Homo sapiens: one gene and its partners. The protein of the gene in region 1 interacts with the protein of each later gene in a pairwise test. Each region holds a gene or a part of one and is shown on either strand. Other genes may lie near its edges.

What was found.
Region 2: the proteins of NDUFS5 (region 1) and SGSM1 interact in binary tests that used the Homo sapiens proteins (3 or more experiments, as listed by UniProt).
Region 3: the proteins of NDUFS5 (region 1) and SPATS1 interact in binary tests that used the Homo sapiens proteins (3 or more experiments, as listed by UniProt).

Annotation. Positions count from the first base shown.
Region 1 is NC_000001.11:39,024,603-39,028,352, forward strand, and holds the start of NDUFS5 (NADH dehydrogenase [ubiquinone] iron-sulfur protein 5), read left to right. Parts: upstream 1-1,747; 5' UTR 1,748-1,800; intron 1,801-3,750. UniProt on the Homo sapiens protein: Accessory subunit of the mitochondrial membrane respiratory chain NADH dehydrogenase (Complex I), that is believed not to be involved in catalysis. Complex I functions in the transfer of electrons from NADH to the respiratory chain.
Region 2 is NC_000022.11:24,921,118-24,924,867, forward strand, and holds part of SGSM1 (small G protein signaling modulator 1), read left to right. Parts: intron 1-3,068; coding exon 3,069-3,157; 3' UTR 3,158-3,750. UniProt on the Homo sapiens protein: Interacts with numerous Rab family members, functioning as Rab effector for some, and as GTPase activator for others. Promotes GTP hydrolysis by RAB34 and RAB36.
Region 3 is NC_000006.12:44,340,428-44,344,177, forward strand, and holds the start of SPATS1 (spermatogenesis-associated serine-rich protein 1), read left to right. Parts: upstream 1-2,222; 5' UTR 2,223-2,341; intron 2,342-2,668; coding exon 2,669-2,807; intron 2,808-3,750.

The DNA of each region.
Region 1 (3,750 bases):
TACTTGGGAGGCTAAGCAGGAGGATTGCTTGAGCCCTGGAGTTTGAGGCTGCAGTGATCTATGATAGCACTACTGCACTCCAGCCTGGGTGATGGAGTGAGACCCTATCTCAAATAAAATAATAATTATAATAAAGACTGCCAGGCACATGGTGGCATGCACATGTGGTCCCAGCTATTTGGGAGGCTGAGGTGGGAGGATCACCAGAGCCCAGGGAGGTTGAGGCTGCAGTGAACTGTGATTGCACCACTGCACTCCAGCGGGGCAATGGGAGTGAGAATCTGTCTCAAAAGTAATAATTATATATATATATATTTATATATATATATATATATATATATATATATATATATATATATATGTTCTAGTATTTTCCTCCCATACCTCCAATGTATAATATCTCATGCACCCTGTGGTCCACCCCCCAAAGACATACACACAACACTTTAGAGTCTCTGATGTAGTCAAAGGGAGTCATTGGAGGTTCTGGAACAGATGACAGGCATGGTAGCAGTTGATTCACAAACTGAAAGCTGAGACATCAAAGAACTGCGACTGCCTTGGAATGTTTCCCATGTGCTAGCCACCGCCTCAGTGCTTTATACATAAATCAGTTAATCCCTATAGCAAGCCTCCATTGTGAATACCATAATTATCTTAACAGACGAGGAGACTGAGGCACAATGAAGTTAAGAAACTTTCCTAGAGTCACACGAAATTGGTGGGGGCCTACTTTTTTTTTTTTTTTTTTTTTTTTTTTTTTTTTTTTTTGAGACTGAATCTAGCTCTGTCGCCAGGCTGGAGTCCAGTGGCGCGATCTCACCTCACTGCAACCTCCGCCTCCCGGATTCAAGCGATTCTCCTGCCTCGGCCTCCCCCCACTAGCTGGGATTACAGGCACTCGCTGCCACACCCAGCTAATTTTTGTATTTTTAGTAGAGACAGGGTTTCACCATATTGGCCAGGATGGTCTCGATCTCCTGAGCTTGTGATCCGCCCACCTCGGCCTCCCATAGTGCTGGGATTACAGGCCTGAGCCACTGCGCCCGGCTGGGGGCCTACATTTGACCCCACGTGGTGGTTTGGGCTCATAGTCCATGTGCTTAACCACTAGTGGGTAGGCAGGGAGCCAGTGTTCTTTCTCTCCTGTGACTTTGGTGAAGTCTCTCACCACTCAGTGTTGTCGTGAGCATGCTAGGCAGAGTGCAAGAAAGGAGCAAGAACTCACTAATGGCTAGGCCTTCCCTGTGTCTCTGTAATTGATGGGTTTGGGTTTTTTTTCCTTTCTCTCTCTCTACCTCCTCTCTCTCTTCTTCATCCTCTCTCTCTCACTCTCCCCCTGAGATAAGGTCTTGCTCTGTTGCCAGGGCTGGAATGCAATGGAATGGTGTGATCATGGCTCACTACAGCCTCAATCTCCTGGGCTCAAGGGATCCTCCCACCTCAACCTCCTGAGTAGCTGGAACCACAGGCATGCACCACCTCGCCCGGCTAATTTTTTATTTTTTGTAGAGAGGGGAGTTTCGCCATGTTGCCCAGGCTGTTTTCGAACTCCTGGGCTGAAGTGATCTTCCTCCCTCAGCCTTCCAAGGTGCTGGGATTGCAGACGTCAGCCACCGTACCAGGCCAACGGGCTCGGTTTCTATGGTTTTGTGGGGAGACGGCTGAGGGAAGGTCGGCTTCCGGCGTCGCGCTGCAAACGTCTCGCTGAGGTCATCCTTTACGGCAGGCGTCCGCGTCGCTAGCTAGTCGTTCTGAAGCGGCGGCCAGAGAAGAGTCAAGGGCACGAGCATCGGGTAGGTAGGGGCTGCTTATGTCCGCGCGGCAGCTTAGCTTAAGGACCTTCCTTCCGAGGTCTCTTTAACAGATTTCCTCTTGGCTTGCTGTGTGTCCCCTTCTCCCAGACCTGAACTCAGGGCGTGTTCCCTGCCCTCCCAGGCCGCTTCACCTCCACAGCTAATGGCACCGAAGCCTGGAGATTGCCGCTCTCTCCACTTTCCACATTTGTTTAGGTTTTTGCCGGACTAATGTTTTGGCTTTCTGTTTCTTAACCTAAAGTCTACGATCCTTATCCCAGCTTTCCAGGCTCTGCGTGATTTCGGCCCCGCCGGCCTCCTGAGCTCATTTCATTCTTTTCACCGTCATGCACGCTGCGCTCCATTGTCCCCCAAACATAGCCAGCACTTCCGGCTGTAACTCCGGGCTGTTGCCCAACTGGAACACTCTGCCCACTGATCTTCACTTGGCGAACTCGCAAGCCATGTTAAAGGCATTTTCAAGTCTCCGGGCAGAGTTCGTGCTTCCTCCTTCGAGCTCTTACCCACTCGTGTTCCTTGCAGTGTATTCGCAATTCCGAGTGTGTGTCTCTGGTGCTTACGTTGGAGCTGCTTTCCCCCGCATCTGAGTGCCTGGAACGTAACTACTCAGTAAATGATGACTGAGGGATGGGAAGGAACTTAAGAAGTTAAATTCACCTTTTTGTTGAGATGGAGTTTCGCTCTTGTTGCCCAGGCTGGAGTGCAGAGTGGCGCGATCTCGGCTCACTGCAGCCTCTGCCTCCCGGATTCAAGCGATTCTCCTCCCTGAGACTCCCGAGTAGCTGGGATTACAGGCATGCGCCCCCACGCCCGGCTAATTTTGTATTTTTTTAGTAGAGAGAGGGTTTCGCCATGTTGGTCAGGCTGGTCTTGAACTCGCGGCCTCAGGTGATCCGCCCGCCTCGGCCTCCCAAGGTGCTGGAATTACAGGCGTGAGCCACTGCGCCCAACTAAATTCACCTTTAAATCTACCATGAGTACACATTTATATTGATATTTGTGGGTGTGCGCGCGCTTCCTTTCAGTCATTTTAGGCAGTCAGGGTTTGTTTTTGTGTGTGTGTTTTTACATTTAACATTATTATGTATTTGCATGTAAATTTTTTTCCCTACTGTCTGTAATAGTCTACAAAGTAAGTCTTAACCCATTTCTTTCGCTCTGGTTTTTTTTTTTTTTTGAGACAGGATCTCGCTTTGTTGCCCAGGATGGAGTGCAGTGGCCAGGTCATAGCTCACTGAAGCCTTGAACTCCTGGCCTCAGTCTCCTGCCTCAGCCTTAGGAGTAGCTGGGACTACAGGCGCACATACCACCACAAGTGCCTTTTTTTTTTTTTTTTTTTTTTTTTGAGACAGAGAACCTGACCAAAGGATCCAAATTCTTTTTTTCTTCTTCTTCTTTTTTTTTTTTTTTTTTTTTTGAGACAGAGTCTCGCTCTGTCGCCCAGGCTGGAGTACAATGGCGGATCTTGGCTTATTGCAACCTCTGTCTCCCCAGTTCAAGCAGTTCTCCTGTCTCAGCCTCCCGAATAGTTGGGATTACAGGCATGTGCCAACACGCCCAGCTAATTTTTTTGTATTTTTAGTAGAGACGGGATTTCACCATATTGGCCAGGCTGGTCTTGAACTCCTGACCTCAGGTAATCCACCCGCCTTGGCCTCCCAAAGTTCTGGGATTACAGGCATGAGCCACCGCGCCTGGCCCACAAGTGGCTGATTTAAAAAAAAAATTTAGGCCAGGTGCAGTGGCTCACACCTGTAATCCCAGCACTTTGGGAGGCCAAGGCGGGCGGATCACCTGAGGTCAGGAGTTCAAGACCAGCCTCGCCAACATGCTGAAACCCCATCTCTACTAAAAATACAAAAATTAGCTGGGCGTGGTGGTGCGCACCTGTAGTCCCAGCTACTTGGGAGGCTGAGGCAGGAGAATCGCTTGA
Region 2 (3,750 bases), on another chromosome or scaffold:
GAGACGGAGTCTCACTCTGTTACCCGCGCTGGAGTGAAGTGGCACGATCTCAGCTCACTGCAACCTCCGCCTCCCAGGTTCAAGTGATTCTCCCGCCTCAGCCTCCTGAGTAGCTGGGATTACAGACACGCACCACCACGCCCGGCTAATTTTTATATTTTTAGTAGAGACAGAGTTTTGCCATGTTGGCCAGGCTAGTCTAGAACTCCTGACCTCAGGCGATCCGTCTGCCTTGGCCTCCCAAAGTGCTGGGATTATAGGTGTGAGCCACTGTGCCCAGCCAGTCATTTTTTAAAACTACAAAATATATCTCAAGTGACTATTCTATAACTTACTGAACCATTTCTTATCATTAGCATGTAGGTTATTTTCAGTTTGAAGGTGTGATCGAGAGTCCAAAGCAATTCATCTGTTAGCATAAAGATTCCCAAATTTTCTCAATTCATGCACCCCTAGTGTCTCTGTAAAATTATAACAGCACCCCAGGCCAAAAGTTTCATTTAGTAAGTAGTTAAGTCCAAACCGCTTAATAAGTATTTATATCCTAACAATTTAGAAGCCATTGAAAAAATAATACATATGTATCTTTTTTTTTTTTTGAGATGGAATTTCACTCTTGTTGCCCAGGCTGGAGTACAATGGCATGATCTCAGCTCACTACAACCTCCGCCTCCTGGGTTCAAGTGATTCTCCTGCCTCAGCCTCCTGAGTAGCTGGGATTACAGGCATGCACAACCACAAAATACTAATTTTGTATTTTTTTAGTAGAGACAGGGTTTCTCCATGTTGGTCAGGCTGGTCTCAGACTCCCAACCTCAGGTGATCTGCCCACCTCAGCTTCCCAAAGTACTGGGATTACAGGTGTGAACCACCGTGCCTAGCCAATAATACATATATATCTAAAGAAAATAACATTTTTACATCATTCCCGAATAAGCACAATTGCTAATGGGGTGTATGCACCCATTGGGCTTTGCATACCTTCTCAAGCCTTGGAATCAGATTGGACACCACCTCTTTTGTTTTCTATTCCATATTGATTTTCACATGGCACTTACTTTCTTTTTTTTTTTTTTTTTTTTTGTGATGGCGTCTCGCTCTGTCACCCAGGTTGGAGTGCAGTAGCCAATCCAGCTCACTGCAAGCTCCACCTGTGGGATTCACGCCATTCTCCTGCCTCAGCTTCCTGAATAGCTGCAACTGCAGGCGCCCGCCACCACACCTGGCTAATTTTTTGTATTTTTAGTAGAGATGGGGTTTCACCGTGTTAGCCAGGATGGTCTCGATCTCTTGACCTCGTGATCCGCCCACCTCGGCCTCCCAAAGATCTGGGATTACAGGCATGAGCCACTGTGCCCGGCCTTTTTTTTTTTTTTGAGACGGAGTCTTGCTCTGTCACCCAGGCTGGAGTGCAGTGGCGCGATCTCGACTCACTGCAAGCTCTGCCTCCCAGGTTCATGCCATTCTCCTGCCTTAGCCTCCCAAGTAGCTGGGACTACAGGCATCCACCACCACACCCAGCTAATTTTTTTGTATTTTTAGTAGAGATGGGGTTTCACCATGTTAGCCAGGATGGTCTCGATCTCCTGACCTCATGATCCACCCGCCTCGGCCTCCCAAAGTTCTGGGATTACAGGCGTGAGCCACCGGGCCTGGCCCATGGCACTTACTTTCTGTTGCAGCAGCTGCTGAAAACCTAGCTTTGCAAAGACAAAGTCATTGATGGGACCCTGGGTACAGTGGCTTACGCCTATAATCTCAGCACTTGGGCAGGCCAAGGTGGGTGGATTGCTTGAGGTCAGGAGTTCCAGACCATTCTGGCCAACATGGCAAAACTTTGTCTCTACTAAAAATACAAAAATTAGCCCAGCGTGATGGTGCATACCTGTAATCCCAGCTACTCAGGAGGTTGGGATTAGAGGAGGCATGAGAATCACTTGAGCTTGGGAGGTGGAGGTTATAGTGAGTCGAGATCACACCACACCACACTCCACCCTGGGCAACAGAGTGAGACCTTGTCTCAAAAGAAAAAAAAAGAAGAAAGTTATTGATGGGAGTGTAGTGAAATTTGTGAACTCACTCCAGCTAACAGTTGACATGGTGCTCAACTTAGATGGAGTATTCCCACGCTTCCCTCGAAATACCCAAATACTCCACAGTGCCCCTGCAAATCACTATGACACGCTGGGGTACCTTGGTACCCAGTTTGGGAACCATGTCTTAGTTTTAGTGTTTTTCTTTTTTTTCTTTCTACTAAATGGTTTATTTATGATAAATGTCTACGTTTAGGATTATTTGGCTTAGAAGTCTGACCACATTGTGTGGCTCTTGATAAAATTATTTTTTTCTTTGGTTTTTTTGTCCCTTTCTCCTCTTCCTTCTCCATCTTTCCTCCCTCTGTTGCTTCCTCCTTTTCATATCTTTCAGCGTCTACTGTGTGCCCAGCACTGCTCTCAGTCATTCTGTTTATAGGAGAGGGGTGGAAGGACTTCACCTTTTCATTTTTATTTTTATTTTTTTTTGAGACGGAGTTTCGCTCTTGTTGCCCAGGCTGGAGTGCAGTGGTGCAATCTCGGCTCACCACAAGCTCCGCCTCCTGGGTTCAAGCGATTCTTCTGCCTCAGCCTCCTGAGTAGCTGGGATTACAGGCATGCGCCACCACACCCGACTAGTTTTGTATTTTTAGTAGAGACAGGGTTTCTCCATGTTAGTCAGGCTGGTCTCAAACTCCCGACCTCAGGTGATCCACCTGCCTCGGCCTCCCAAGGTGCTGGGATTACAGCCATGAGCCACCATGCCCGGCCGACCTCACCTTTTTATGGCACATCCTGTGAACCAGCATTATCCCATTCAATCCGCACAGTAACTTGGTGAGGTGGCTGCTGTTCCAATCCCCATTTTACAGATGAGGAAACTAAGGTCCAGAGGTAGAGGCCTTCTCCAGGGCCTCTGCTTCCTGAGTCAATCTGTGATGGAGATGCCCCCAGAGAAGCCTCCAGGGGCTGGAATTGTACCCTAAGACTGGACACAGAAGGAGGCTCATGAGATTTTTCTTTCTGCTCTTTCAGAAATGGCTGAGCGACACAACACCAAGCAAGTCCTGAAGCTGGCGCGGGACCTCGTGTACAAGGTGCAGACTCTGATTGAGAACAAGTGAGGGGCACCTCACCCCGGCAGCCTCAGCCAAGCTGCCCCTGCCCCGCTCCTCTGCTTACTTTTCCTCCTGGCTGGATGGGCACCCCGGGAGCGGGGTCCTGGTGTCTGTTCACAAGCGTGGAGTTCAGTGCGCAAAGAAACTACCCTGACTTTTACTTCTGGGCAGATGGGGTGGAGGGAGTACCCCTTCAATTCAGCCTTACATTTTCCTGTTTGACCAAAGATTGCCCAAGTCTGGCGTTCCTCCCTTGCAGGAGGTGGAGGTTGTTGGTGGAGGAGGAGCCATCTTTGTTTGCTGGTGCCCGGAATGGTCTCCTCTTCTTCTTTCCCTATCCCTCCAAACTGTCTTGTAAGATGAGACCTGGGGAGGAAACTTCTTTTTGGAAATTGGTGTAGAAGAGGTGTGTGGGGCTACCTCTATGCTCCTCTGCAAGGGGCCTTTGGCGATGTTCTGGACATGGCTGAAGATTGACTTAGAGATTGACCCTCCACCTCGACATTACTGACATTTGGGGCCAGGTGATTCTTTTTGAGGGGACTGTCCCCTGCATTGTAGGATGCTGAGCAGCATCCCGGGCCTCACCAGATGCCAGT
Region 3 (3,750 bases), on another chromosome or scaffold:
CCTGGTGAGGCAGCCTCTTGAGTCAAGCCATTAATAACTAACTATGCTGTTGCCCAGCTAACATTTCTATTAAATAACTGTTACCTCTCCTACCGTGGGATAAAGAGATAACATGTTTTTTTAACTTCAATAAGGGGAAATGCTCAGGATATGCAGCCATCCTTCTGTATCCCTGGGGGATTTGTTCTAGGACTCCCCTCCCACACCAAAATCTTGAGCATATCAAGGATGTTCAAGTCCCTTTTACAAAATGGCATAGTATTTGCATATAACTTATGCAAATCCTCCTGTACGGTACTTCAAATCATCCCTAGATTATTTATAATACCTAAAGCAATGTAAATGCTATGTAAATTGTTGCTATACTTTGCTGTTTTTATCTGTATTATTTTAAATTTTTATATATTTTTTGAATATTTTTAATCTGTAGTTGGTCATATCTGTGGATCCAAAACCCTCAGATATGGAGGGCCAACTTTTTTTTTTTTTTTTTGAGATGGAGTCTCACTCTCTTGTCCAGGATGGAGTGCAGTGGCATGATCTCAGTTCACTGCAACCTCTGCCCCCCGGGTTCAAGCAGTTCTCCTTCAGCACCCCAAATAACTGGGATTACAGGTGCCTGCCACCACGCCTGGCTAATTTTTTTTTTTTTGTATTTTTAGTAGAGACGGGTTTCATCATGACGGCCAGGCTGGTCTTGAACTCCTGATCTCAAGTGATCCACCCACCTCGGCCTCCCAAAGTGCTGGGATTATGGGATTATGGGCGTGAGCCACAGCCCCAGCCATCAACTATAATCTTAAATTTTAAAAGCCCAATACAAGAGATATCTATATCTATATCTATCTATCTATCTATCTATCTATCTATCTATCTATCTATCTATAATATGTTAACATATTTGTGCACAGAAAAAGGGTAGAGAGGAAGGAGCCCCTAAATATCAGCAGGGGTGTAAATCACTAGGGGTATATGACATACATGTGCATAGAAAAAGGACAAGGAATAACCCCTAAATATCAGTAGGGGAGATTGTATTTTCTAGGAGGGCCACAAGATCCCCTGTCCCCTGTGCTCTTCATACAGTATGACCATGATGGAGAGGTGTGATCTAAGTTCCCTCTCCATGCATTTGTGACTATGGAGGCAATACAACTTCTGCCTGGTCCTCCTGGGATGCTCACGTTGGAAACTCAGACACTGGTGTGAGAAAGCACATGGAAACGCCACACATGGGTGAACTGGCGCTAACCCTGCTGACCTCAACTGACAACCAGCATCAATCACCAGACACATGAGTGAGGAAGCTCCTCTGTGACCTCTGACTGAGACCCTGTGAGAGACCCCAAGCATGAACAGCCTAGCTTAGCCTAGCCAACGACCAGGATCAGAAATTAAAAATGAATGTTGTTGTTTAAAACAACAGAGTTTGAGGGTGATTTGTTATATAGCAATAGCTATCCAGGAAAAAAGTATTTAACTTCTGTATGGTGAGATCATGGATATTAATAATACTTTTCCATATTTTCCAATATTTCTATAATGACCATTTATTTCTCTTATAATCAGTAACAAAAGAAGGGAAAACTTGGTCTAAACACGAATTTAGGGACTTAAACTAGACTTGGAGAAAAGCTTTCTATGCAAGATTTATTAGATACTGGAAAGGATGAGGAAGACAAATTTAAGTCAATATGATGGAAAGAGTGGTGGATTTGGAATGAGGAAACTTAGAAATGAATCTGTTTTCTGGGTGACCTTGCGCAAGCCTTTGCTAAAATTTGGTTTTCTATTTTGAAAAACGCAGCTGGCTGTTTAAGGAAGATAATATCCACCAGGGCGCCTGGCCCAGAAAAGGCGCTCTGTAAGTGGTAGGTGGATCCTGTCTAATCAACGCCAATTATAACCAGGCATCTGCAAGCTTTGTGGAGGGCGCATCTTTCACTGCTACCAGAGCCTACAGTTCTAATAATGAAAATTGCCTGGAAAAGAACCACAACTCTTAAAAAAAAAAAAAAAGTCCAAAATCACAAAGTGGCTTTTGCAGCGGTCCTTGCCTGTGACGCCGGGCCATGGCTGGAGCTCCTTGCTCCGTACCTCTCAGGAGCCTCCATCCTGTACCAATGGCCAGAGAGCCGGGGGGTGACAGACAGGGGGGCCGGCAGCCGAGCCAGGCAGGACGCTGCGCGCCGCGTTACTGGAGCCGGTGTCCCGGCAACCCCGGAACGCGCCTCTGTGGGAGAAGCAGGCGGCTGCGGTGTCCCTTTTGCCCTAGGCTCTCGGTTCTCAGGCCTCGGCGTGCGGCGTGCGTTCGGCAGTTCAGTTGCCAGTTGGTTCGTTGGTCCGTGGAGGCCTCTGAGCACAGACCCGGGCCTCCCCTGGGGAAGGGGGTGGGAAGACCCCGAGGTGGAAAAGAAGGAGCACCTTGAGCTGGATGGGGGCTGCAGCGAGCCTGGTTCGGGCTGGGGGCGGACTCGCTGGGGCTCCCAGGGCTTCCAAACCACGAAACGCCCAGGTGGAGGGAGTAAGGCTCCCGTTTAGAGGCCAGTCCTGCCCTCCTGACTTTCGGTGGCTTGTGGAATTTGTTTGTTTTGACTGATACCTTTCTTACGAGGGACTTTCTTTGTCTCTGGGTTGCTTCTAATATTTAAAATCATCATGGGCACAGATGAGTCCATCCATGCTCACTGGAAACAGTCCACGGGGCTGCCGTCTCCCCTCCATCTCAAGCACGACCTGCGGCAGACAGCTGGAGAAGGTTCCAGAAAAAAGGGACTCTGGCATGACCGAGGTGGAGAGGACCTACAGTTGAGTTCTAAGAAATCCAGGCTGTGGAGTTGGTGGCCACATCCAAGTATACTACACCCGGGGGCGGGGGCAGGTGGGGGGCACCATTTGAAGTTTAGAAGGAAGCTAGTTTGGGGGCATGTAAAAAGAGCTGCTTGAATAGTAGCTTATGTTTGTGCTAACCCAAGATTTGATTAGGCAGAGAGCACCACCAAAGCAGAGAGTCTCATAAATTACCTCACTGGATCTCACAGCAGTGGAGAAGTATATTACCTATGAGTAAAGGGAGCCAGAGATTTGACCTGCCCAGTGCTTGGGTTAATAAAAGGTGAGCCTGGGATTTGACATGAGCCTGGGATTTGACATGAGTCTGCCATACTTTCGAGCCTGTGTCCTTTCATCTTTCCTTTGCTCAGATATTAGTAGGTTTGTGTCATTGTTTATTGGATGGGACAGTTCAGGTGAGAATTATGAACACTCTAAAAATTAAATAATGGCTGGTAGCTCCATAATTGGTTAAGGCCGAGGAGGGTATTTGGGGGCACGTTTGCCTTTGGAGAACAGTGTCATGGCGCTGAACAGCCACAGTCTCCCAGAAAAGCTCAGAGTGCGCCTGCGCTCAAGTTCTCATTTACCTGTTATGGGTGAGTGGCCTGAGTGCTGCAAAAAGGGGTTGTGAAATATCCAGACTTTGCGGGATCAGATCTTAGCTTTCTCCCTGGTCTTCTGTATTCTGGGTGTGTGATCTCCTCATTCTCCTTCACAGTGGGGAGAAAGGAGGGAGGTACAACTCATTCCACCCAGCTATTAATATAAGCTAGGACCGTAGAGAAGGAGGAGCTGGAGGAGTTAGAGCTATTAATTGTCCAAGTGTGTCTGCAACAGCAAGGAGAAAAGGGTTCTGGGATTCTAACTTTAAGCTCCAGACCTTCCTGCAGTTTCCAGTTTGGGGTAAAGGAAGAA